Linked DNA regions of Homo sapiens. The gene in region 6 interacts genetically with the main gene of each other region. Each region holds a gene or a part of one and is shown on either strand. Other genes may lie near its edges.

Region 1 (3,500 bases), on a different chromosome or scaffold from region 6:
GTGATCCACCCACCTTGGCCTCCCAAAGTGCCGGGATTACAGGTATGAGCCACTGCGCTTGGCCCAAACTGAAGAGATTTTTAAAGCAATACCATAAAATGAAGAGATTTTTAAAGCAATTTATCTCATGAAGGACTAATCTGCTGACTTCACGTTCTCATGATTATCATTAAAGTCAACATTATCACCCCCTGCTTTTTTTTTTTTTAAGAGATGGGGTTTCACTATGTTGTCCAGGCTGGTTATGAACTCCTGGCCTCAAGTGATCCTCCTGCCTAAATTTCCTGAGTCATTAGGTATATACCCCATTTTATAAACAAGAAAAGCAAAATGTGAATAAGTAATTTACCTACAGACTTAAAGCAAATGAATAGCAGAACGAGGATTTGACCTCAGTTCTATACAACTCTTATTTTACACCAAAGTACCTTAGCTTGTTCTTCAGAGTGCTCATAACTGCCTAGACTCTTGCACCTAATTACCTACTCTCCGCCATTTCTTCCTTCTGATTCCATCATCCCAAATTTCCATCTCTCCAGTTCTTTGGTCCTCCAGGTCTCATGGTTTTTCTCATGCCCCTCAGCCCCTCTACTCACTTTTTCTGAAACCACAGACTTACCCAGTGACCGTAAATTAAGCTCTTCTGTGATCTTGGCCTCCCGGAGCAGTTCCTCCTGGGTTAGTGGCCGCTCACAGTGGGGCCCCTTTCGCCGTCTTGACTGGCCCTGCCTCTCCTGTACCCGAAGGAACGTTTGTCGTGTATGCTCAGCTGTAGACTGACGCATAGACTTCCGACCTGGAAGAGAGTGAGATAAGAAGAAATCTTTGAATTCATGTCCACATATTTTATTTATTTATTTTGAAATGTTGTACTTGGAAATAATTTTTTTTTCTTTTTTTTTTTTTGAGATGGAATCTCGCTCTGTCGCCCAGGCTGGAGTACAGTGGCACGATCTCGGCTCACTCCAACCTCTGCTTCCTGGGTTCAAACAATTCTCCTGCCTCAGACTCCCGAGTAGCTGGGAGTACAGGTGCATGCCACCACATCCAGCTAATTTTTTGTATTTTTAGTAGAGATGGGGTTTCATCATGTTAGCCAGGATGGTCTTGAACTACTGACCTCGTGATCTGCCTGCCTCGGCCTCCCAAAATGCTGGGATTACAGGCATGAGCAACCGTGCCTGGCCTGAAATAATTTCAAACCTACGAAGTTGCAAGAATAGTACAAGGAATACTCATGTATCTTTTACCCCATCACCTATTGGTAATATTTTGGCCCTTTTGCATTTTGTTATGTGTGGTTTTTTTCTGAATGATCTAAATTAGGTAACTAAAGTTGTACACATCATGGCCTTTATCCCTAAATATTTCAGTGTGTATTTCCTAAGAATGAGGATTTTCCTACCCATAGTAAGTTATCAACATCAGTAAATTTTTTCTTCTTTTTATTACTTTTTTCTGGTGACAGAGTTTTGCTCTTGTTGCCCAGGCTGGAGTGCAATGGTGTAACCTCCACCTCCCAGGTTCAAGCAATTCTCCTGCCTCAGCCTCCCAAGTAGCTGGGATTACAGGGGCCCACCACCACACCTGGTTAATTTTTGTATTTTTAGTAGAGACGGAATTTCACCATGTTGGCCAGGCTGGTATCGAACTCCTGACCTCAGGTGATCTACCCGCCTAGGCCTCCCAAAGTGCTGGGATTCTAGGAGTGAGCCACCGCACCCAGCAACATCAGTAAATTTAACACTGATATGATACTTTATTATTATATTCCAATTTTGCCAATTGACCCTAACATCCCTACTCACTGTCAGAGCCGTCATCTTGTAGTTCTAATGGCAGTAGTGCCTTCTCTTCTCGCGCCTTCTGAGAGCTACCAGCCGGGGTGTTGACCTTTCGAGGCCTTAAGCTCTTGAGAGGTTCCTGAGGACAGATTGGAATCAGATACTGGGGAACAGAAGAAGTCAGGAGAAATATGAGGATCTCAATGAGAGAAAACTAGCATTGCCAGAAATGGAAGTGGCATAGGGAGTACTGGGACCTGATGAAAGAGAGAATAGGAATTGAGGAAATCCAAGACAACTAGGACTCCCCCTGTACCTTATAGGCCTTGGTGACTACTCGGCGCTTCCTTCTTGGCTCTTCTGCTTCTCCATCACTGGATGGTTCATCCCCTTCATCAATGTCAAAGTCAGAGTCCACTTCGTCCTCTGTGTCTGACTGGTCCCCTTGATACTCATCATCTCCGGATTCCTAAGGACACAGGGAGATAAGGGTTGGCTGGCAATGGAAGCCTTAATGCCCCTTCAGGAGGAACAGAATCTCTCGACTTTCTTGATAAGGGCTGCCCTACTCTCCTTCCTAATCCAGCCCTTCATTTTCCTCAGGCAAGAAAACTTTCTAGCTAATGGCCTTTGGCTCCAGTACCACCTCCTTCCAACATTAATTGATAGCCCTTTACCTGCAACACACTGTTAAGTACTGGGGAACAAAAGGATATGGTTTGGTCTCTACCTTCAGGGGCTTACAGTAAAGGGGAGGACATAATCTTACTTTTTTTTTTTTGAGATGTGGATCTCGAACAGGCTTGGTGGCTCACGCCTGTAATCCCAGCACTTTGGGAGGCCGAGGTGGGCAGATCACTTGAGGCCAGGAGTTCGAGACCAGCCTGGCCAACATGGTGAAACTCTGTCTCTACTAAAAATACAAAAATTAGCTGGGCATGGTGACGCACACCTGTAGTCCCAGCTACTTGGGAGGTTGAGGCAGGAGAACTGCTTGAACCCAGGAGGCATAGGTTGCAGTGAGCTGAGATAGTGCCACTGCACTCCAGCCTGGGCGACAGGGCGAGACACAGTCTCAAAAAGAAAAAAAAAAAAAAGGATGAAGAGGACTTAAACTATGATTGAAAACACTGTTAGTATTTAGACAGCCAAGAGGGAGGAAGGAATCATGGGCAGATGAAATAGCAGAAACAAAGGCACAGAAATGGTAATGTGTATAGCATGTTTATGGAATAAGGATTTAGATCTAAGTAAAACTTTTCTCTGTCAAGAAACCTTGTTAGCCAACTGCATTTGGCTCCAGCACTGCCTCCTTCCAACACTGATTGCACTGTAGGACTGTATGATTTGAAAAGAAGGTTGCATTCCATTTATGGAGAAACTTAAATGTCACACTAATAAACACGCTTTTAACCTGCAGGCCAGTGATTCTCAATCCCCTCCATCTCCTTATTTTCCCTACCATTGATAATCATTGTTGAGGTAAACTAAAGTTACTGAGAGAAATATGTGTCATTCCTCAGGCGTGTTGGGACAGAAAAACAGCTGAGTACTGCTACTATGGATAATGGAGGGCCACTGAAGATTTAGGGGAGGGGTAATGGTATGTACAATGGGTATTTCAGAAAGCTCTGGGGGCAGTTAGATGGCCTGGAGTAGAGAACGTGAAGTACAGCCTAGACCTCAGGTGAACTGGTTAGGGCTAGAATGGCAGCC
Region 2 (3,500 bases), on a different chromosome or scaffold from region 6:
AGAATTTTACTTAGGTACCGGATAGTTTTGTATTTCTAATTCTTGAGCTTTATAATGAGATACCGTTATCTGGAAATGGTTTGATCCTTTCGGATATTACTTCTTAGATCTGTTAGGCAGGACCAGAGCCCTGTTTAGGATAGGGCTAATTATTCCCCTTATGATTGAGGTAAGAATTCTGAGTACTGTATCCAATGTCTTATGAATTACAAAGATTTCCATTCTGGCTGGTAGTTACAGGCACTATCCTCAGCCCTGTGTAAGCACGGTGCACGGTTCACTCTAATCCTTCTAGATGGTTCCCTCCCAGCTTTCTGAGTACTTTCCTCACACATCTGCTAATCAATGCTCTGAATACTTAAGGGGGACACTTCTACAGATCTCCAGCATTCTTTCTGTGCAGTTCTCCCCTCTCAGGTACTGTTATTCAAACTCTACCTGCCTTGGTCTCCCAGGTCTTCTAAACTCCTCCTACTCACTTCAGTGTGTCCACTGGGTTCTCCCTGCTATACTGAGGCCTGGAACTCTCTGAAGGCAGTGAGCTGGGGCAACCCAAGAAATCACTTTGCTTGTTTCCTGTCTCTAAGGGATCACTGTACTCTGATGCCTGATGTCCAGTGTCTTGAAAACCATTGTTCTGTATGCTTTACCTGAGTTTTCTTGGTTGTTTCAAGTAGAAGCATAAATCTAATCTCTGTTACTCCATCTTGGCTGGAAGATGACAGCTCTTCCCATTTTCATTTCTTCAGTTTTGATATTCCAATTTACTGATACTTTGCTCTTCAGCTGTATCCAGCCTGTTATTCATATTATCTGCTGAATTTATTTCAAATTTATTTCAGTAGCTTTCAAGATTTCTAATTTCTAATTTCTCACCATAAACACTTGTTTTATAACTAAATGCTTATTTATAGTGACAAATTTCACAGCTGTTGTTCCTGCCTTCGTCTATTTAAGGCTATATTCTTAAACTGTATTTGAGATTGCTCTATTATCTCTATTTCTTGGAGTATAAGCAAGCAGCAAAAGACAGTGGTTAGGAGTGTGATCTCTAGAGCCAGACTACCTGTGTTCAAATTCTAGCTGTAGTATTTAGTAGGCAAGTTACTCTCTCTGTGCCTTATTTCACCATTCTCGAAAGTGAGGATAATAAGAGTACCTGTTTTAAAGGATTAGTGTGAGAATTAAAGGATACACTTAGAATGGTATCCATTTGTTTTGCTGACACTGCCTTGCAGTCCTTTGGAATGGTGCTTGGCATACGGTAGGGCTCAATAAAAAAGAGTTCCCTGTTACTACCACTTTCCCTCTTTTTCCTTTTCCATGTTAGTTGCTCATGTTTTTCATCTACCTTAGGTGCTTTGTCATTCTTGGCTGAAAACTCATCTTCCATAGATTTATTTTAGGTGTCCTGGACTGGTGGCCCATTCTAAGATAGGAAGCCGTACCCTAGCTTTAGGCCTCTAGATCAGGCCTTGTAGTATTTTTGGTCCAGATCCAAAAAACACATGGATGGTGCTTCTCAATCTCTGGCTGTGACAAATGGCACATTTCTGACTCCCAACTTCAGTGAGGCAGGGTAGCATGCTTTGTCAGATTCTATTCCCGACAATCCCCTGCTGTGGTTCCCATCTGCTCCTTTCTTTTGGGGGGAAACCTCTCTCTTCCTAATCAATGGAGACTTCCCTTCTTGCTTTTGAACAGGTCTATCCTGATAATTATATTTTCTTACTATTTCCTATTTTTTTATATGCTTAGAGTTTCAGCAAGTGCTCAATCTACCATATTGAATCTTCACTTTATTTTTGACTGTCTTCACAAATGGATTCTACTTAGCCCTTGTACATTCTAAGTGGTTACCATCAGTATACTGGAACACTACATATTAAACTTTTTAATCACCAGTCACCTTGATGAATTCTATGATGCTTCTAACAGTTTTTCAGTTGATTCTCTCCCTTCTCTCTCCAGTTTCCAGTTTGTTCTCTTCATGGTAGACCCCCCCACGTATAAAGGCTATGCTTATTCCTGACTTCATGCCTTTGTTCTTGCTTTTCTCCTCTGCCTTTTATCCTCCCTTCATATAACTCAATGCTGTTTTCTTAGTCCATCTCATTTGTGGTTTCTTCTTTAAGCCTTCTTTTCAAATGGACACCTATTTTTACTTCCTATTTTCACAAATCGCCTGTAATCAAAAACTATTTCTTTAGTGCCTACCATATGATCAGTACAGGTTGAACACTCCTAATTCCAAAATCTGAAATGTGAAATGCCGCAAAATCCAAAACTTATTAAGTACTGACATAACACCGTAGTGGAAAATTCCACACCTCATATAATGGATCAAAGTCAAAATGCAGGTGCACAATACACAGTTCATTCAGCATCCCTGAGGGAAAAAACCAAAATTACCTTCAGGCTATGTGTATAAGGTATATATAAAACATACAAGAATTCTGTGTTTGGACTTGGGTCCCATCCCCAAGATATCTCATTATGTATGTGAAAATATTACAAAAAAAAAAATCTGAAATCCAAAACATGGTCCCAAGGTTTTTGGATGAGAGATAATCAACCTCTAACTATATGTATTTTGTGCCTATTATGCTACTGCTGCAAATACAGTTATGAACAAGGTATATATGGTCCCACTCCTCACAGATATTAGTCCAGGAGGAGAGATAGATATTAAAGTAATAACTGATTCCAGATATAAGTAAAATAAATAAAGAGTGGAATACTTCTGAAACAAATTACAAGGGCATCTTACCAAGTTTGGAAGGACACAGTGTTTAGCAAAGACTTGTCTGAAGAAGTGACAATTACACTTAGACATCAAAAGTGAGTAGAAATCAACCAGACTAATACAGAGGCAGGAGGAAGGGTGATGGTTGAGAGCAAAGAAAACAGCTTGTGTGATGGTCCCTACACTAGAGGGAACTTGGTAAATTCAGACCTGAACTGCTATTGTGAAGGCAATGTAATTAACGGGGTGAATGGGTATAAAATATGAGGTAAGTCCTAGTGAAGATCTTAGAACTGTGGAAAGCTACTGGATGATATAAAATAGGAACATAAAAAAATCAAACTTGCATTTTAAGGACTTTTTGGCTGAGTATCAAATGAATCTTTAAAAAGTCCAGTTATATCACAATTTTGATAAAAGACTGGTGGGTAGGATGAACAGGAGATATTTAGCCAACCTGAAATGAGTCAAGAATTGAAAGGGCTTAGTGAAGAACAGGAGGCAGAGGAGGTGAGAAAGCAAGACTGACTTCTAGATTTCTTTCTCAAATGTGCAACTGGATTGATGGTGGTAGCATGGACTGTTTCGCTGGTACTGCCTTGCAGTGCTAGTCAAATGGAATCTATATACCATAGATTCTCTTAACTCCTTTCTCTATAACGTGTTTTTTTTTTTTTTTTTGAGATGGAGTCTAGCTCTGTCACCCAGTCTGCAGTGCAGTGGCGCAATCTCAGCTCACGACAACCTTCGCCTC
Region 3 (2,548 bases), on a different chromosome or scaffold from region 6:
AAGCCATCACAACAGGCCAGCAGGGCGGGGCGTGGAGGTTCATTCCTGCAATCCCAGCACTTTGGGAGGCTGAGGCGGGTGGATTGCTTAAGCCCAGGAGTTCAAGACCAGCTTGGGCAACATAGTGAGACCTGTCTCTACAAAAAATACAAAAATTAGCTGGGGATGGTGGTGCACGCCTGTGGTCCCAGCTATTTGGGGGGCTGAAGCAAGAGGATCGCTTGAGCTTGGGAGGCTGAGCCTGCAGTGAGCTGCGTTCCTGACACTGAACTCCAGCCTGGGTGACAGAGCAAGACCCTGTCTCAAAAAATAAAAATAAAACAGGCTGGCAGCTGTGGTGATCACCCAGCAGGGCCAGTTCACCTGCCCCCTGGAGGCCAGCTCATGATTTCTGTCCCATCCATGGACCACCTGGATGACTACCATTTTTCTTTAGCTCAACTCACTTTTTAAAACTCCCGCAAATTTATTTTAAATGGACACTATCTATCCCTACTGTAAATGGAAATCTAGCACAGTTCTGAGCACCAAGGGGCTGCAAGTCCTGCTCTGAGGGTGCCCGACTTTTGTTCCAGAACGAGCTGGCTCTTCGGGCGTCACTGGCAACCCACCGTCCAGGGCGATGCTCGAGAGTGCTGCCTAGGTTTGACTCTGGCTCCACCTAGCAAAACTCTGTGGCCCTGAACAGCATCTCTACTTCTCCGAGCCCGAGCCGCAGTTTTCTACCTGCTGAGTCTCATTTCTACCTAAATGAGGTCCTGCTGCATGCGGAGTCTAGAACAGCACTCAGTAAAGGGCCAGTGTTACTATGGAGGGAAAACTGAGGTCTAGAGACAAGATGGGGTTTGGGATGAGGATTCTGACAGTCTGGTTCCTGGTCCATTCTGCACCCAGGAGCTGGCTGGAGAAGCAGGTTCCTCCAAGATCTGCTGCACTGGGCTTGGGGAAAGAGGACATGACTCCTCGTCCTTCTGGAGCATTCCTGGCAGTGCTGACTCAAGTGCTCTGGAATCGAGTTCGGGCTTTGCCACAAGCTGCCCCTGTGACTCTGGACAAACCACTTCTCAGCCTTTTTTTTTTTTTTTTTTTTTGACAGTCTTGCTCTGTCACCCAGGCTGGAGTGCAATGCGTGATCTCGGCTCACTGCAAGCTCTGCCTCCCGGGTTCAAACAATTCTCCTGCCTCAGCCTCCCATGTAGCTGAGATTACAGGTGCCCGCCACCACATCCAGCTAATTTTTTGTATTTTTAGTAGAGACGGGGTTTTGCCATGTTGGCCAGGCTGGTCTCAGCCTCTCTTTTCTACATGGGAGGAATGAGACCAGGTGCTGGCTGAGGGTCCCTCCCGCCCCCGTGGGGTGCCCAGCAGCCCTTGGGGTGGGCTGGGAGAAGCGGTCACTCACTCTTGTCGGATTTCTTCTTCTCCTTCTTGCTCTTTGGGTTGCTTTGATCTCCACCTTCAACCGTCCCCATCCCCTTCTGAAGCTCCTCTTCTGGCTCGTCCTTGGCCCCTTGGGAGCCAAGAGACCCCTTCCCTTTCTTCTCCTTGACATCACCACTTGCTTTGTCTCTCTTTGCTTTCCCCTTGGAAGTCGTGGAGGTCTTTTCTGGGGAAACAGAGGCCTCCCCACCTTCCCCGGCCCCCAGCTTCTTCTTCTTCTTGCTCCTGGGGGTCCTGGCAGCTGGCTGGTCTCCCGATAGCTTCCGCTTGCGGCTCTCCCAGCCCTTCCTGCTGCTCTCCTTGGTGGTGTCCACCACCTTCTTTCTTTCCTGTTCCAGCAGCTCAGTCAGGACCTTCACCACTGAGGCCTGCACCTGGGCCTCATTCAGGGGCCAGGGTTGGCCCAGGAGGCACTGGGTGATGTTGCTTTGCAGCGCCAGGGTTGAGGCTTGGGGGTTCCCAGCCCCTTTCTTGGGCTTCCGGGACTTCTGAGGTGTGGTGCCTGAAGCAGCCTCTTTTCCACCTATGGAGAGAGAATGTGGGGTCACAGATCTGGGAGAGTTGGGGGACAGATCTTATGGTACCTAAGAGCGAAGAGGGTGCAGGGAGTGACTCCATCTTTTCTTACAATGGCACAGATGGGGAGAGCAAGGCTTGGCGGTCACTCTGCCCCAGCTGGTCTCCTAAGCTCACACCTTTCCACCAATTTCACACCCTGACTTCATTTCTAACTTACAGCTTTTCCCTGTCTCTTTATACTAAAAACTCCAGTTAGGGTGGGGGACAGAAAATGACTCCAGAATGTTAATGAAAGGGCCTGAAATCTATCAATGGAATGAAAATTCAGAAAGGAGGGAGATGGAGTCTGGAGCTGGGAGGAAGGAGACCTGGGTTCTAGGTCTGACTTTCCCACCCACTTTCAGTGTGATTCTGGCCAGGACCCATCTCCTCCCAGGGCCTTGGTTTCCCTGTCTATAACGTGAGGGGTGGATGAACAGTAAGGCTTCCTATGATACATTGTAGATTTATAATAAAAGTGGGGGCCATGCAGACATTCAACTGATGATTACCCACACTCGGCCCTTCCTGGTCAGGGGGTCCAGGCAAG
Region 4 (3,500 bases), about 65 Mb from region 6:
ATGGGGTTTCACTGTGTTAGCCAGGATAGCCTCGATCTGACCTCAGGAGATCTGCCCACCTTGGCCTCCCAAAGTGCTGGGATTACAGACGTGAGCCACTGCGCCCGGCCAAGACTTTAAAATTTGAAATGGATATATAGTTATTCCATGATTGTTCAGTTTTTGTCAAAGTTTCCATTATGTCCAGTCTTGCATATAACTTGTTGTACAACTCTTTTAGGCTCTGAAGAGTGTTGTACTCTATGTTATCCTGGCTCCTTTTGACAATGAACAGTCAGATTTGGTTCACCGAATAAGTGGTGACAAGAAGTTAGAAGAAATTCCCAAATACAAGTAAGTACTTTTGAAATTAGCATGATATATCTCAGTCGAAACACCATTTTGAAAGAAAATTGGCTAACCTAAGTGTATACTTCTGTGTATACTTCTTTTTTTGAGATGGAGTTTTACTATTGTTGCCCACACTGGAGTGTAATGGTGTAATCTCAGCTCACTGCAACTTCTGCCTCCTGGGTTCAAGTGATTCTTCTGCCTCAACCTTCCGAGTAGCCGGGATTACAGGCACCCGCTACCATGCCGAGCTAATTTTTGTATTTTTAGTAGAGACAGGGTTTCACCATGTTGGCCAGGCTGGTCTCGAATTCCTGACCCCAGGTGATCCGCCCACCTCGGCCACCCAAAGTGCTGGGATTACAGGCTTGAGCCACTGCGCCTGGCCTAAGTGTGTACTTCTTAATTGGTTACTGATAGCGTATACTAGAGAATAAAACTAGAGAGGATAACGTGGTGGAATTTTTTTTTAGCATTGCATCAGCAGTAAATGAGATTATAACATACTTTCTTCTAAATTGCTTATCAAGTGGAAGTTTCATATCAGGTCTACATTTGCAGCTTTTGATTAATTATTTGATAGAGTTTCATCATTAGTAGTTTAGAGCTTTGTGATTTTCAGAAATACATACTTGTGAAAATCTATTATATAAAATAGACTTGCTTCATCATAAACACAACAGGCTCTTATTTCTGTTTGTTTCATGAGTACATTTACATTCAGTTATTTCAGAAATTGACAGTGCAGAAGAGAGCAGAGTGTTAAGTGGGAGAATGCTGTATTCTGAACTACTGTGGGAAAAATGGTAATAAAGTTGGTAAAATACACAATAATCATATGGTGTCTCATTCTACTAAATAAAATTTAACGAAAACAGTCTTTGCTGAATTTTTTGAACTTTGCTATTATATTAGTTAATACTTAATTTTTACAGATTTGGAATATTAAGATGTATACAATTTTCAGGGATCTTTTAAAGCTTTTTACCACAATGGAGTTGATGCGTTGGTCCACACTTGTTGAGGACTATGGAATGGAATTAAGAAAAGGTTCCCTTGAGAGTCCTGCAACGGATGTTTTTGGTTCTACAGAGGAAGGTGAAAAAAGGTGGAAAGACTTGAAGAACAGAGTTGTTGAACATGTAAGAATCTGTCATAGAGATGACAATTTTTATTTTAACCTTTAGTGAATTTACTTTTTAGAATTAAATTTTGGCAATTTTGAGCATAAACTATTTCATTTGTCACATTTGATAACCAAATGTTCATTTAGGATGTTATGTGTTTAATTCTTCACTTAGGATATTTTTTTTCTATGCCCACTGTAGTAGTGATGCACATTTGGTGTTCAGATGTTTACTCTGCATTTCCCAAAGCATATTGGAATGTATCTCACTCATCTTGGGTTTTTTCCCTATTTTTGGCTTTTCAGAAAAGATAGCTATATTTTAGCTTGCTTCATTGTGAGAGAACCTCTTAAGAATCCAAAATTTATAGTATATAAACCAGACAGAATTTCCGAAGAATGGGGGCAGGAGGGTGTTTCTCTCTTAATATTCACTAGTCTTGGAAGCAGGTAACATGTCTTAAACCTGAACTTTGATCTTTTTAGTATCACTGCCGTTATGTTGTATTATGTTGCCATTCACTCCTTCATGTAACAAACTTTATTGTGAGCCTTCTGTGTGCCAGACACTTTACAAAGCACCAGGGCACACAGGAGAATAAGACAGTACCCTCCCTAGGCCGGGCGTGGTGGCTCACACCTGTGATCCCAGCACTTTGGGAGGCTGAGGTGGGCAGATCACCTGAGGTCAGGAGTTCGAGACAAGCCTGGCCAACATGGTGAAACCCCATCTCCACTAAAAATACAAAAATTAGCCGGGCGTGGTGGCGCACACCTGTAATCCCAGCTACTCAGGAAGCTGAGGCAGGAGAACTGCTTGAACCCAGGAGGCAGAGGTTTCAGTGAACGGAGATCACACCAATGCACTCCAGCCTGGGTGACAGAGCAAGACGCCGTCTCAAAAAAAACAGACATTACCCATTACTCTACCTTTAATAAGATTAAAAATTATAGGGAAAGACGTACTTATAAATAAAAAGAGTATCAGATATTGTAGTACAAGTATCTAGAGAGCAGAGGGAGGCTTATGGGAAACTTTGGTAGTTCTACATGGAGAAATGATCAGGTCGGATGAATCGATGATTGAGGTGAGGTTTGTAAGAGGAGTGTGAGGTTATCGGGCAGACAGGAACAAGGGAGGGCAGCCTGCGCACCAAGTCCCTCTGAGAGTGAGTGTGGAGAATGCATTTGGAGAGATAGGAGACTAGAGAAGACTAGTAAGGTGAGAGATACATGGATTTTAAATAAGGCAGTAGCCAACGGATTAAAGACTGCTTGGAATGGGATTGTTTTAAGGAAGGAAATCAATAGAATGCAGCCATTGATTAGACTTAAAGCATGAAGGAAAAGGTTAGATTTAAAGGATAAAAGCACAGAGAAGAATGCTTCTCGTGCTTTCTGATGTGTTGGTGTTGCCATCAGCCCTGATAGAGATGGGAGAAGATGTAGCTTCTTCAAAGATTGAGTTCATTTTTCTCCCCACTGTTCCCCCACCTTTTTTTGAGTGCTATTGTTAATAATACTACCAATAAGAACAGTAAAGGGGAGTCTCTGTGTCTTAACTTCAGCACCATCGCCAGTTGAAATTAGGAAATTTAATTTGAAGCTATCTTTAAGTCATTGGAATAATGGTAAAGTGATGAGTATTTGAAATGATGTCTAATCTTTTTTTTTTTTTTTTTGAAAGAGAGTCAGTGTAGCTCTGTCATCCAGACTGGAGTACAGTGGCACAGTCATAGCACACTGTAACCTTGAATTCTCGGGTTCAAAGAATTCTCCCCCCTCAGCTTCCTAGGTAGCTAGGACTATAGGCATGCACCACCATATTCAGCTAATTTTTAAATTTTTTGTGGGGATGGGGTCTTGCTGTGTTCCCAGGCTGGTCTTGGTCTCCTGGCCTCAAACAGTCTTCTTGCCTCAGCCTCCCAAAGTGCTGGGATTACAGGTGTGAGTCCCTGCACCCGATCGATCTCCAATCATTTTTTAGATTTTAGCCTTTAAAACATTTGTGTTATAATTAGAAAATCTTAACTTTAGATTCTTG
Region 5 (3,500 bases), on a different chromosome or scaffold from region 6:
TCTGGGAGAGAATAAACAGTGGAGAGATCTGTCTTTAAAAATATAAACGTACTCTCGGCCGGGCACGGTGGCTCACGCCTGTAATCCCAGCGCTTTGGGAGGCCGAGGTGGGTGGATTGCTTGAGGTTAGGAGCTTGAGACCAGCCTGACCAACATGGTAAAACACCATCTCTACTAAAAAAAAATACGAAAATTAGCCAGGCGTGGTGGCACATGCCTATAATTCCATCTACCCGGGAGGCTGAGGCAAGAGAACTGCTTGAACCCAGGAGGCAGAGGTTGCAGTGAGCCGAGAAAAGGAGAGGCTGAAAAAAATAAATAAATACAAATAAAGAAAAGGAGAGGCTGGCTGGGCACGGTGGCTCATGCCTGTAATCCCAGCACTTTGGGAGGCCGAGGCGGGTGGATCACAAGGTCAGGAGATCAAGACCATCCTGGCTAACACGGTGAAACCCCATCTCTACTAAAAATACAAAAAATTAGCCGGGTGTGGTGGTGGGCGCCTGTAGTCCCAGCTACTCGGGAGGCTAAGGCAGGAGAATGGCATGAACCCGGGAGGTAGAGCTTGCAGTGAGCCGAGATCACGCCACTGCACTCCTGGACGACAGAGCGAGACTCCATCTCAAAACAAACAAACAAAACAAAACAAAACAAAATATATATATATGTAGTCTCTCACAGTGACGTGTCTATGACTGTGTCTAGTAAAGCTCAGGAAGAAAGAATAGCAGTTAACATTGTTTATAAAGACTTATCAAATGTAACCCTTCAAAATATTTTATCAAATACTTATCAAATGCAACCCTTCAAAAATATTTTAAAGGATGTACTAACAATCAATTCCTGTAGTACAGTTTTACTTTCTGCTGCTAATGATTGTTCTTTTAGTATCATATTAAAAATCTGAGAAACATGAGTAGACACATTTTCTGGAATAGATGTGAGAGATCCAAGTGCTACTGTAGTAATGGTATCTAATGCAGAGACACTGGAAGACAGCAGATTACCTATAACAAACAAAAACAGAAAGATGTAAACTTTGACATAAATATATTAAATACCGTTCAAACCATTTCAAAGAAGTTGACAAAAGTATACCCTTGTTGTAGAATTTGTAATAACGAGCTTAAAAGAACTGGCTCACTACAAAGCAAGGAAATATTTAAATATACATTACAATTTTCTATAGTGCTCTGTAAGCCCTTAACATATTTGTAAGTGTATCAGACCCATAACTATAATTCATAGTACACAAAGAATTAGAATATTCTACAATTAATCTCTAACTAAAAATAATATACAGAATTATGGTAAGTTTACAGAAGAAAAAAAAAACTGGAAATCAATACCAAAAAGTATAGTGCTTGGCTTAGTGAGACTAGAGTCTAGATGATTTTTTAAATTTTTATATTTCTGAATGTCCAAATTTTCCATAATGAGGATAGTATTTCACACTAAATAAACATACTTTTTTCTAAAGGGAGATAATAGTTAAAAACAATGAGACACAAACATATTCTGACAATATAGCAAACCATCAAGATATATATGCCCCCCCCAAAAAAAGTTGCAGAATGTTTATGCACAAAAAATTTCCAGAAAAAGGCCCAAGAAATTTAACAATAACACCTATGGTCAATGACCCAGGGTCAGGAGCCGGAGTCAGGGAAAAAGAGGACTTCTACTTCTAACGTTTATATACTTAGTTACTTAATAAATGTAACATTTTATAGAAAACAGAAGGGAGGGTGGGGAGGGAAAAAAGATTTGTTTTAATTCAAAGACAATAAAAGCATTAATCTTCACCCTGAACAAATAGTTTGTGCATGGTAGAGAGTATTGGTGACACCGTCATCTATGTTTCACAAAATTATCAGTTTTGAAATCAACATTACACTTAACACATCAAGACTAGAACAGAACAGCCTGAACTTACCAAATAAGGTCTTATGTACTTCTAGCATGGCCTTTTGCTTTGAGCTGCCATCCTTAATTAATTCTTCCATATTATTAAACAGACTATTCAGGTTTTTGCCAAAAATATCCTGAGCTTCTGCATTGTGTTGGTCAACTGCCTTCTTACGATCCAGTTTGGAATGGAGACCAGATACATCTTTTGTAGTTTCTTCAACTGTGTTAAGCAGCTATATTTTTAAAAATAAGTGTTAGACAAAATGGATACGGTGAAAGGAATCTGATGAAAGTATCTACACAAGGATTTATCTTGATAAGAACTAGTAAATTTTCCAGCCTGGCCAACATGGTGAAACCCCGTCTCTACTAAAAATACAAAAATTAGCTGGGTGTGGTGGTACATACTTGTAGTTCCAGCTACTCAAGAGGCTGAGGCAGGAGAATTGCTTGAACCTGGGAGGTGGAGGTTGCAGTGAGCCAGAGATTGTGCCACTGCCACTCCAGCCGGGGTGACAGAGAGAGACTCTGTCTCAAAAAAAAAAAGTCAATTTTAGACATTGTATCAGAAGAAATGCTTTAACTCATGCTAATTTATCCAGATGCCCAGTAATGTTTATTTCCCTTCCTGTAGCCATCTACACAAGCAAGGAAAACTGATTTTTTCAGTTATTGCAATAATTATGCTTCCTCAGAAATTTTTTTCCTTCTATGTTCTACTATTTCCTCAGAAGTACACCTAATGGCCGGACGTGGTGGCTTACACCTGTAATCCCAACGCTCTGGGAGGCCTAGGCAGGTGGATCACCTGAGGTCAGGAGTTTGAGACCAGCCTGGCCAACATGGTGAAACCCAGTCTCTACTAAAAATACAAAATTAGCTGGGTGTGGTGGCAGGCGCTTGTAATCCCAGCTACTTGGGAGGCTGAGGCGGGAGAATCGCTTGAACCCGGGAGGCAAAGGTTACAGTGAACTGAGATGATGCCACTGCACTCCAGCCTGGGCTACAAAGCAAGAGTCTGTCTCAAAAAAAAAAAGTACAACTAATAAAAAATTAAAGGCCGGGCGCGGTGGCTCACGCCTGTAATCCCAGCACTTTGGGAGGCCGAGGTGGGTGGATCATGAGGTCAGGAGATCGAGACCATCCTGGCTAACAAGGTGAAACCCCGTCTCTACTAAAAATACAAAAAATTAGCCGGGCGCGGTGGCGGGCGCCTGTAGTCCCAGCTACTCGGGAGGCTGAGGCAGGAGAATGGCGTGAACCCGGGAAGCGGAGCTTGCAGTGAGCCGAGATTGCGCCACTGCAGTCCGCAGTCCGGCCTGGGCGACAGAGCGAGACTCCGTCTCAAAAAAAAAAAAAAAAAATTAAATACTTTCAACATCTTTCATCATCAGAACATACTAAATTCTTTTTTTTTTTTTTTCTGAAACAGAGTCTTGCTCTGTTACCCAGGCTGGAGTGCAGTGGCATGATCTCGGTTCACTGCAACCTCTGCCTCCTGGGTTCAAGTGATTCTCTTGCCTCAGCCTCCTGAGTAGATGGGATTATAGGCATGTGCCACCACGCCTGGCTAATTTTTGTATTTTTTT
Region 6 (3,500 bases):
AAGAGTAGCAGCCTTAGAGGGACCAAGACAAATTCACTGCCCTTCTCTAATTAGTAGAGGACTCTGTCACCAGATACAAATCGAAATTTTTCTTTTTGTTAAAGAGTTAAGGCAATTGTACTGAATTTTTCTCAATTTTTAGTTTCCTCACATGACTTAGATTTTGATGCTGTACAAAATAAATAATTTTCATTTAAATTTGACAAATGCTTTGGAGATTACTGAAATTTTTTCAAGTATCCTACATACATAGTTGCAAAATAAAGGCAGTTTTTTAAAATGTCACATGCTATTTTTATTGAAATCTATCTGTACGTAACTACATGTTCTTTTTCAAGGTTATGGAATTAGAATCAAAGCTAAATGAAGCAAAAGAAGAATTTACGTCAGGTGGACCTCTTGGTCAGAAACGAGACCCAAAAGAATGGATTCCCCGTCCGCCAGAAAAATATGCATTGAGTGGTCACAGGAGTCCAGTCACTCGAGTCATTTTCCATCCTGTGTTCAGTGTTATGGTCTCTGCTTCAGAGGATGCTACAATTAAGGTAATTTTTTGTTAAAAGCAGACTTAACGGGAGGCTGAAGCAGGAGAATGGCATGAACCCGGGAGGCGGAGTTTGCAGTGAGCCGAGATTGCACCACTGCACTCCAGCCTGGGCGACAGAGCCACACTCTGTCTCAAAAAAAAAAAGCAGACTTAATAGGGTGAAGAAAATTAAAAGATCCTGAAAATGAGGGCCTATGAAGAGGGACAGGAGGTACTCTGAAACGTGTGATTTGGTTCTAAATCTTAAAAGACAGAATTGGAATAAAATATCATTGTGGCTCCTGAGAGGCATGCTGCCAGGTAAGTTTGATGGTGAATTTGAGAAAGTCGGGTGTCACTAACTGAGTTGATGTCAGTACATCACCTTGTGCTTGAACAATTTTTGTTCTTGGAGAATGAAAAGTGTGTGTCTTACCTTTAAACGGAGGTTATGTGTGAAATACTGATTGACAAAACTAGTAATTGATAGGGTGAATCTATACTGCAAAAGAATTCAGTAGAGGATTCATTTAAATTGGGCTTTCCTTGATGTATTTAAAATTGGCTTTCCAGGAGTGTGGGAATATACAAGCTTTTCATTTTATAAATTACGTATTTCATTAAAAAATTTTTTTCACAGTAAAAATATTATTACCTTTTAATGTTGTGCTTTTTTAATTAGGAAAAGAGTTGTTTTTAAGTTGCCTTTGTTCCGGACACAATAAAATGACCGTTGTATAAACCACCTACAGAAAGATAAGATAGTTGCAATATAGGTAGATTTAGGTAGATGCCTCTATCCTAAGGGTTATTTCAAAGTAAGTTACAGATATTAAGTTTCATTTACAAAAGTATAACCAATCGGCCGGGCACGGTGGCTCACGCCTGTAATCCCAGCACTTTGGGAGGCCGAGGCGGGTGGATTGCCTGAGCTCAGGAGTTCAAGACCAGCCTGAGCAACACGGAGAAACCCCATCTCTACTAAAATACAAAAAAATTAGCTGGGCATGGCAGCGTGCGCCTGTAGTCCCAGCTACTTGGAAGGCTGAGGCAGGAAATTCGCTTGAACCCAGGAGACAGGTTGCAGTTAGCCAAGATCGCTCCACTGCACTCCAGCCTGGGCGACAGAGCGAGACTGTCTCAAAAAGGTAGTTACAACTAACCAAATAGTAACGACGGTTTGGCCTTACTACTAACAGCAGAAGAAATAAACACTGAAATTATGGGCCGGGTGTGGTAGCTCATGCCTATAGTCCTAGGACTTTGGGAGGCCAAGGTGGGAGGACTGCTTGAGCTCAGGAGTTAGAGAGCAGCCTGGGCAACATAGCAAGACCTCGTCTCTACTTAAAATTAGCCAGGTATGGTGGTGCATGCCTGTAGTCCTAGCTACTCAGGAGGCTGAGATGGGAGGATCACATGAGCCTGGGAGTTGGAGGCTGCAGTGAGCTATGATTGAGCCAGTGTACTCCAGCCTGGGCGAAGAGTGAGACCCTGTCTTAAAAACAAAAAAATTGGACTGGGCACGGTAGCTCATGCCTGTAATCCCAGCACTTTGGGAGGCCAAGGTGGGTGGATCATGAGGTCAGGAGATCGAGACCATCCTGGCTAACATGGTGAAACCCCGTCTCTACTAAAAAATACAAAAAATTAGCCGGGAGTGATGGCGGGCTCCTGTAGTCCCAGCTACTCGGGAGGCTGAGTCAGGAGAATGGCGTGAACCCGGGAGGCGGAGCTTGCAGTGAGCCAAGATCGCGCCACTGCACTCCAGCCTGGGCGACAAGAGTGAGACACACATACATATATATGTGTGTCAAATTGTCAAGGTATTTTACCTATTAAATAAGAATTCCCAGTGATGATAAGATTTTGATAAAGTAGTCATTCTCATTACATATGATACAGTCTTACGGGATATCAATTTAATAGAGTATATGAAGGCTTTAAAAGTTTATACTTTTTGACCCACTAATTGTTTCTCCCCATTACTGTCTGACCTAGGTATTATAAAATGAGGACAGAATTTTTTTATATTAAAAAATGTTCACTATAATGTTTTCTATAATAGTGATTTAGCCAGCAATTAGAATTTTTTTTTTTTTTTTGAGATGGAGTTTCACTCTTGTTACCCAGGCTGGAGTGCAGTGGTATGATCTTGGCTCACTGCAGCCTCCGCCTCCCAGGTTCAAGCAATTCTGCCTCAGCCTCCCGAGTAGCCGGGAGTACAGGCGCCCACCACTGTGCCTGGCTAATTTTTTGTGTTTTTTAGTAGAGACGGGGTTTCACCATATTAGCCAGGATAGTCTCGAACTGACCTCGTGGTCCGCCCGCCTTGGCCTTCCTAAGTGCTGGGATTACAGGCGTGAGCCACTGCGCCCGGCCATATTTCATTTTTTAACTCAAAATGACATATGCTCTTGTTCATTTGCTATTCGTGAACAGTTAACATCTTCTGAAATCTTTCCTTGGCCCTTTAGATGTCTGAGTTCTGATGGTCTAGTAGGATCGAGTATTCATCCATTGTTCCTCAAATATTCTACATACAAATGCCTGCTATAGCCCTCTGAAGCTCCTTCCCTTCCCCTTCCCTTTCCCCTTTCTTTCCCTTTCCTTTCCATCTCTTTCTCTTTCTTTCCTCTTATTTCTTCCCCTTAAGTTTCCTTATTTACATGTCATTCCTGCTCTGAGACAGGGAGCGGACTATGTCTTGTGACTTTATATACCTTATCACTATTACAGTTGGTTATGTGATAGAAACCTTATAAATGTGGTTCTAGAGATAGATTTTAATAATTGCAACATTAGTTTTCCCTGTAGAAAAAAAGACCAATTTATACATGAGATACAATATTTCTAAAATAGTTATCCTTTGTTACTTGTTCGGTTAGTTACTCAGTAAGGTGCCAGACTGGCCTGCTGAGTGCAAATGTGAAACAAGAAAGGAGTGATGGAGTTGGTGTTAACCAATTTTCTGTTC
Region 7 (3,500 bases), on a different chromosome or scaffold from region 6:
ACAGAGTGAAGCACAATCTCTAAACACACACACACACACACACACACACACACACACACACACACACACGCATGCACACACACAGATATATATAAAAGTATACTGTCATTTAAAAAGATACATTATTTATATATTTTGACGTTTACTATGCAAAATATAAAGTACTTACGAAAGAAGTAGGATGAATGGTATAATAAACACTTATGTACCTGTCACCTGAATTCAAATAGTTTACATAATTATCAACATGTAGCCAATCACGTTTCATCTATAACTCTACCTTTCTGAGGCAGACTTCAGACTTCAGTATATATAGAACATAAATTCATAAAGGCAAGTATTAGATTGGGAAAATCCCTTATACAATGAACGTGTATTAAAAACACTTCTTCCTTACTACTTAAAAATATATTAAATTATACTTAGCACCCAGATCTCAGTTTCTAAATATCATTTTCCAATAAGAATTCTCCAACAGTTCCTTGAAAAATGGCTGTTTCTAGGGCTGGGGCAGAAACAATACAAGACAATGAGCTTGGAGCATCTTAAAGTACCAGGAAGTCGGAACACACTTCAGAAAAGTAAAAGGATGGTGGCATGCCTAAAAGGACACAAGAGCCAAATGAATTGGGTTCCCAGAGCTGAAAGAATTTAAGCAACAATATAAACAAAAGTATGGGATCATAACCTGAAGAATAAAATAAATAACCATCAGTCCATACTGATATACCCAAATAACTGAATAAATAAATAAATGGGACAGAGAGAACAAATCTTCCTTGCAGAAAAATTCAACTAACAAGTGTAGAATGAATAAAGAAAACTGAAAATCACTATTAAAACACCATGGAAGTAATTGCTGTAGATAAGATTCCCTGATGAATGCTAAAAATAGTAGGAAAAAGTTTAAGGAAAAAGAAGATGTTTGCCTAGCCTCAAGGTAGCGCGCTATTAATTACTACAGTGATTTTAATGTAAGCCCAAAAACTTTTTGATACTCCTCCCTCTAGAAACTGAAATACAGTGCCTGGAATGCAGGCAGGGTTTAGTGACCTATTTCTAATGAACAGGGTATAGAAGAGGAAAAATTATAATTTTACCATGGAGAAACCTGGCAAGTACCAGCTTAACCAAGTGATTAAGGTTAACATCACCAGTAAAAGTCATGTTGCTATCATGAACCCCTGATATGATGCAATGAGAAGGGCCCTTTATTTCTGTGATAGTTTTCTCAAAAATTCAAAAGTCTCAATCTAATGAGAAAACGTCAGACACACCAGAATTGAGGGACATTCTACAAAATACCTGACCACTGCTTTCAAAGTGTCAAGGTCACTGCTATGTGAAATCCTAACCCCTAGGGTAATAGTATTAGGAGATGCGGCCTTTGCAAGGTGATTAGTTCATAGGGCAAAGCTCTCATGAACGGAATTAGTGTCCTTACGAAGAGACCCCAGAGAGCTCCCTTGTCCCTTCTACCATGTGAGGACACAGAAAAGATGGCCATCTACAAACCAAAAAGTGGGCCCCCACCAAGCCAATGAATTGGCCAGTGGCCTGACCTCGGACTTCTAGCTGCCAGAACTGTGACAAATTAACTTCTTCTATTGTTTATAAGCCAGTCAGTCTATTGTATTTTATTACTGCAGCCCCAAAGGACTGAGACAATCGCAAAAGACCAAGAAACTGTCACAGATTAGAAGAAACCAAGGGGACATGTGACTAAATGTAATGTATAGCATTGATTGGATCCTGAAAAAGAACATGAGTGGAAAAACTGAGGAAAGCCTCAGTTTTTTGTTTTTTTTTTAAAGTCTGTTGTTTAGCTAAGAGTACTGTATCTATGTTAATTTCTTAGTTTTGATAAATGTACCATGGTTACATAAGATGTTAACAATAAGGGAAGCTGAGTGAAGGGATATAGAAACTATTTGAACTATCTTTGCAATTCTCTTATAAATCTAAAATTATTTCAAAATAGAGTTTTAAACAATAAAAAAATACATACACTAAATTCAGGTGTCCTAAAAATAATTTTTATAAGGATTGAAACATAAAACCAAGATTCCTTCAAGAAATAAGAACCATAAGAAGCCTTATCCATTAAATAATGAACACTTCTTGTCAAAAAGTGAATGCTTGTTTTACAAGAACAATCTCAGGTATGCTTTTCAATTTATAACCAAAAAACAGCAAAGCTCACATACTGACCTGGCTTTTATTAACATGATCGTTGGGATGCACAGGTATCTTGCTGCCAAGTTCACCTCCTAACATTTCAATTGCTCTATTGCTAATGACTTCATTTACATTCATATTTGTCTGAGTTCCTGATCCAGTCTGCCATACCACGAGAGGAAAATGATCATTTAATTTACCTTCAGCTACCTGCAGAAAAAATGTTAAAAATGTATTTTAAAAAAGGAAATAATAATGCTGATTATGCCACAGAGTTTGAATACAGTTGACCCACATATCTAAGCTTCTGAAGCATCACTTGCTCCAACCACAGATACTTTAAAAAGTGAAATATTATCTATAGTGAATGGTATGACAATTCACTGGTTTCAAATGAAAAGGGAATCAAAGGTATCTTTCTTATCTCTCTCCCACAGCCTCCTCTAACAGAGGACCACCTGTTAAGGCTGGCAAATACGTTTAGTCTCTAGATATATTTGTTGCTGGTGCTCAGCAGGAATATCCAACAGATGTTATTGCCAGAGTCAGCATGCTAATGAGCTAGTAACTTGAAAATGTGAGTTCACTAATAGCTACTTCATTGCACAGATGTCCAATGAGCAGTAATCACCAAATGTAGAAATAAACGCTGCCCAGATTTGCCCCTATTTTTGTTGTATTTTTATACATCCAGCTTATGTGTTAGTTTTTGGATGGTGTGCTTTGTAAAATATGGGTGGTTAACAATCTTCTGGAATGATTTTAGCTTAAAAAATCAGAATGCACTTGAGAAATCTATTACCTTGAACAACTGGTCCACTTTAAAATAAAACTTTTTTCTGGTTATATAAAAATATGTGATTAGTGTAGAAAATTTTGAGAACTGAGAAAAGTAAAACAGTCACTATAGTTCTATTGCTCAGTAATTATGACTATTAGCATGTTGGCATCCCCAGTCTCTATCTCATGCAATGAGGGTGTGTGTGTGTGTGTGTGTGTGTGTGTATATGAGAAACACACACTTTCTGTTCATTTTTTCCTAAACAAAATTAGGATCGTAAAATACATATATTTTTGCAAACTTTCCTCCCTATTTCTCATAGGCTAGGCTTTGTGCATGCCAATCTTCAAAAAAGTAATTTTCTATAATTTACCATATAAATATAATTTATATAAGTAGCTGTTATAGTTACGCATTGTCTAATTTGTTTTCATTATTATAAATAGTGCTGTAATTAACAACACTATATATACAGTTCTGTTACCTCTGATTGCTTCTTTAAGACAATGTTATTAGCATATTAGTAAAATTACATTCTCAA

Evidence for each region.
Region 1: changes in PAFAH1B1 (region 6) and VPS72 together harm fitness more than expected from each alone (negative genetic interaction), as found in Homo sapiens cells (one large-scale study listed by BioGRID).
Region 2: changes in PAFAH1B1 (region 6) and MZT1 together harm fitness more than expected from each alone (negative genetic interaction), as found in Homo sapiens cells (one large-scale study listed by BioGRID).
Region 3: changes in PAFAH1B1 (region 6) and TCOF1 together harm fitness more than expected from each alone (negative genetic interaction), as found in Homo sapiens cells (one large-scale study listed by BioGRID).
Region 4: changes in PAFAH1B1 (region 6) and PSMD12 together harm fitness less than expected from each alone (positive genetic interaction), as found in Homo sapiens cells (one large-scale study listed by BioGRID).
Region 5: changes in PAFAH1B1 (region 6) and KIF11 together harm fitness less than expected from each alone (positive genetic interaction), as found in Homo sapiens cells (one large-scale study listed by BioGRID).
Region 7: changes in PAFAH1B1 (region 6) and FH together harm fitness more than expected from each alone (negative genetic interaction), as found in Homo sapiens cells (one large-scale study listed by BioGRID).

What each region holds. Positions count from the first base shown.
Region 1 is NC_000001.11:151,183,698-151,187,197, forward strand, and holds part of VPS72 (vacuolar protein sorting-associated protein 72 homolog), read right to left. Parts: intron 2,254-3,500; coding exon 2,101-2,253; intron 1,924-2,100; coding exon 1,809-1,923; intron 797-1,808; coding exon 620-796; intron 1-619. UniProt on the Homo sapiens protein: Deposition-and-exchange histone chaperone specific for H2AZ1, specifically chaperones H2AZ1 and deposits it into nucleosomes.
Region 2 is NC_000013.11:72,721,130-72,724,629, forward strand, and holds part of MZT1 (mitotic-spindle organizing protein 1), read right to left. Parts: intron 1-3,500. UniProt on the Homo sapiens protein: Required for the recruitment and the assembly of the gamma-tubulin ring complex (gTuRC) at the centrosome.
Region 3 is NC_000005.10:150,395,697-150,398,244, reverse strand, and holds part of TCOF1 (treacle protein), read right to left. Parts: intron 1,964-2,548; coding exon 1,403-1,963; intron 1-1,402.
Region 4 is NC_000017.11:67,342,578-67,346,077, reverse strand, and holds part of PSMD12 (26S proteasome non-ATPase regulatory subunit 12), read left to right. Parts: intron 1-220; coding exon 221-333; intron 334-1,265; coding exon of another isoform or gene 1,266-1,297; coding exon 1,298-1,472; intron 1,473-3,500. UniProt on the Homo sapiens protein: Component of the 26S proteasome, a multiprotein complex involved in the ATP-dependent degradation of ubiquitinated proteins.
Region 5 is NC_000010.11:92,631,130-92,634,629, reverse strand, and holds part of KIF11 (kinesin-like protein KIF11), read right to left. Parts: intron 2,145-3,500; coding exon 1,937-2,144; intron 1,008-1,936; coding exon 835-1,007; intron 1-834. UniProt on the Homo sapiens protein: Motor protein required for establishing a bipolar spindle and thus contributing to chromosome congression during mitosis. Required in non-mitotic cells for transport of secretory proteins from the Golgi complex to the cell surface.
Region 6 is NC_000017.11:2,666,654-2,670,153, forward strand, and holds part of PAFAH1B1 (platelet-activating factor acetylhydrolase IB subunit beta), read left to right. Parts: intron 1-338; coding exon 339-545; intron 546-3,500. UniProt on the Homo sapiens protein: Regulatory subunit (beta subunit) of the cytosolic type I platelet-activating factor (PAF) acetylhydrolase (PAF-AH (I)), an enzyme that catalyzes the hydrolyze of the acetyl group at the sn-2 position of PAF and its analogs and participates in PAF inactivation.
Region 7 is NC_000001.11:241,509,756-241,513,255, forward strand, and holds part of FH (fumarate hydratase, mitochondrial), read right to left. Parts: intron 2,389-3,500; coding exon 2,212-2,388; intron 1-2,211. UniProt on the Homo sapiens protein: Catalyzes the reversible stereospecific interconversion of fumarate to L-malate. Experiments in other species have demonstrated that specific isoforms of this protein act in defined pathways and favor one direction over the other.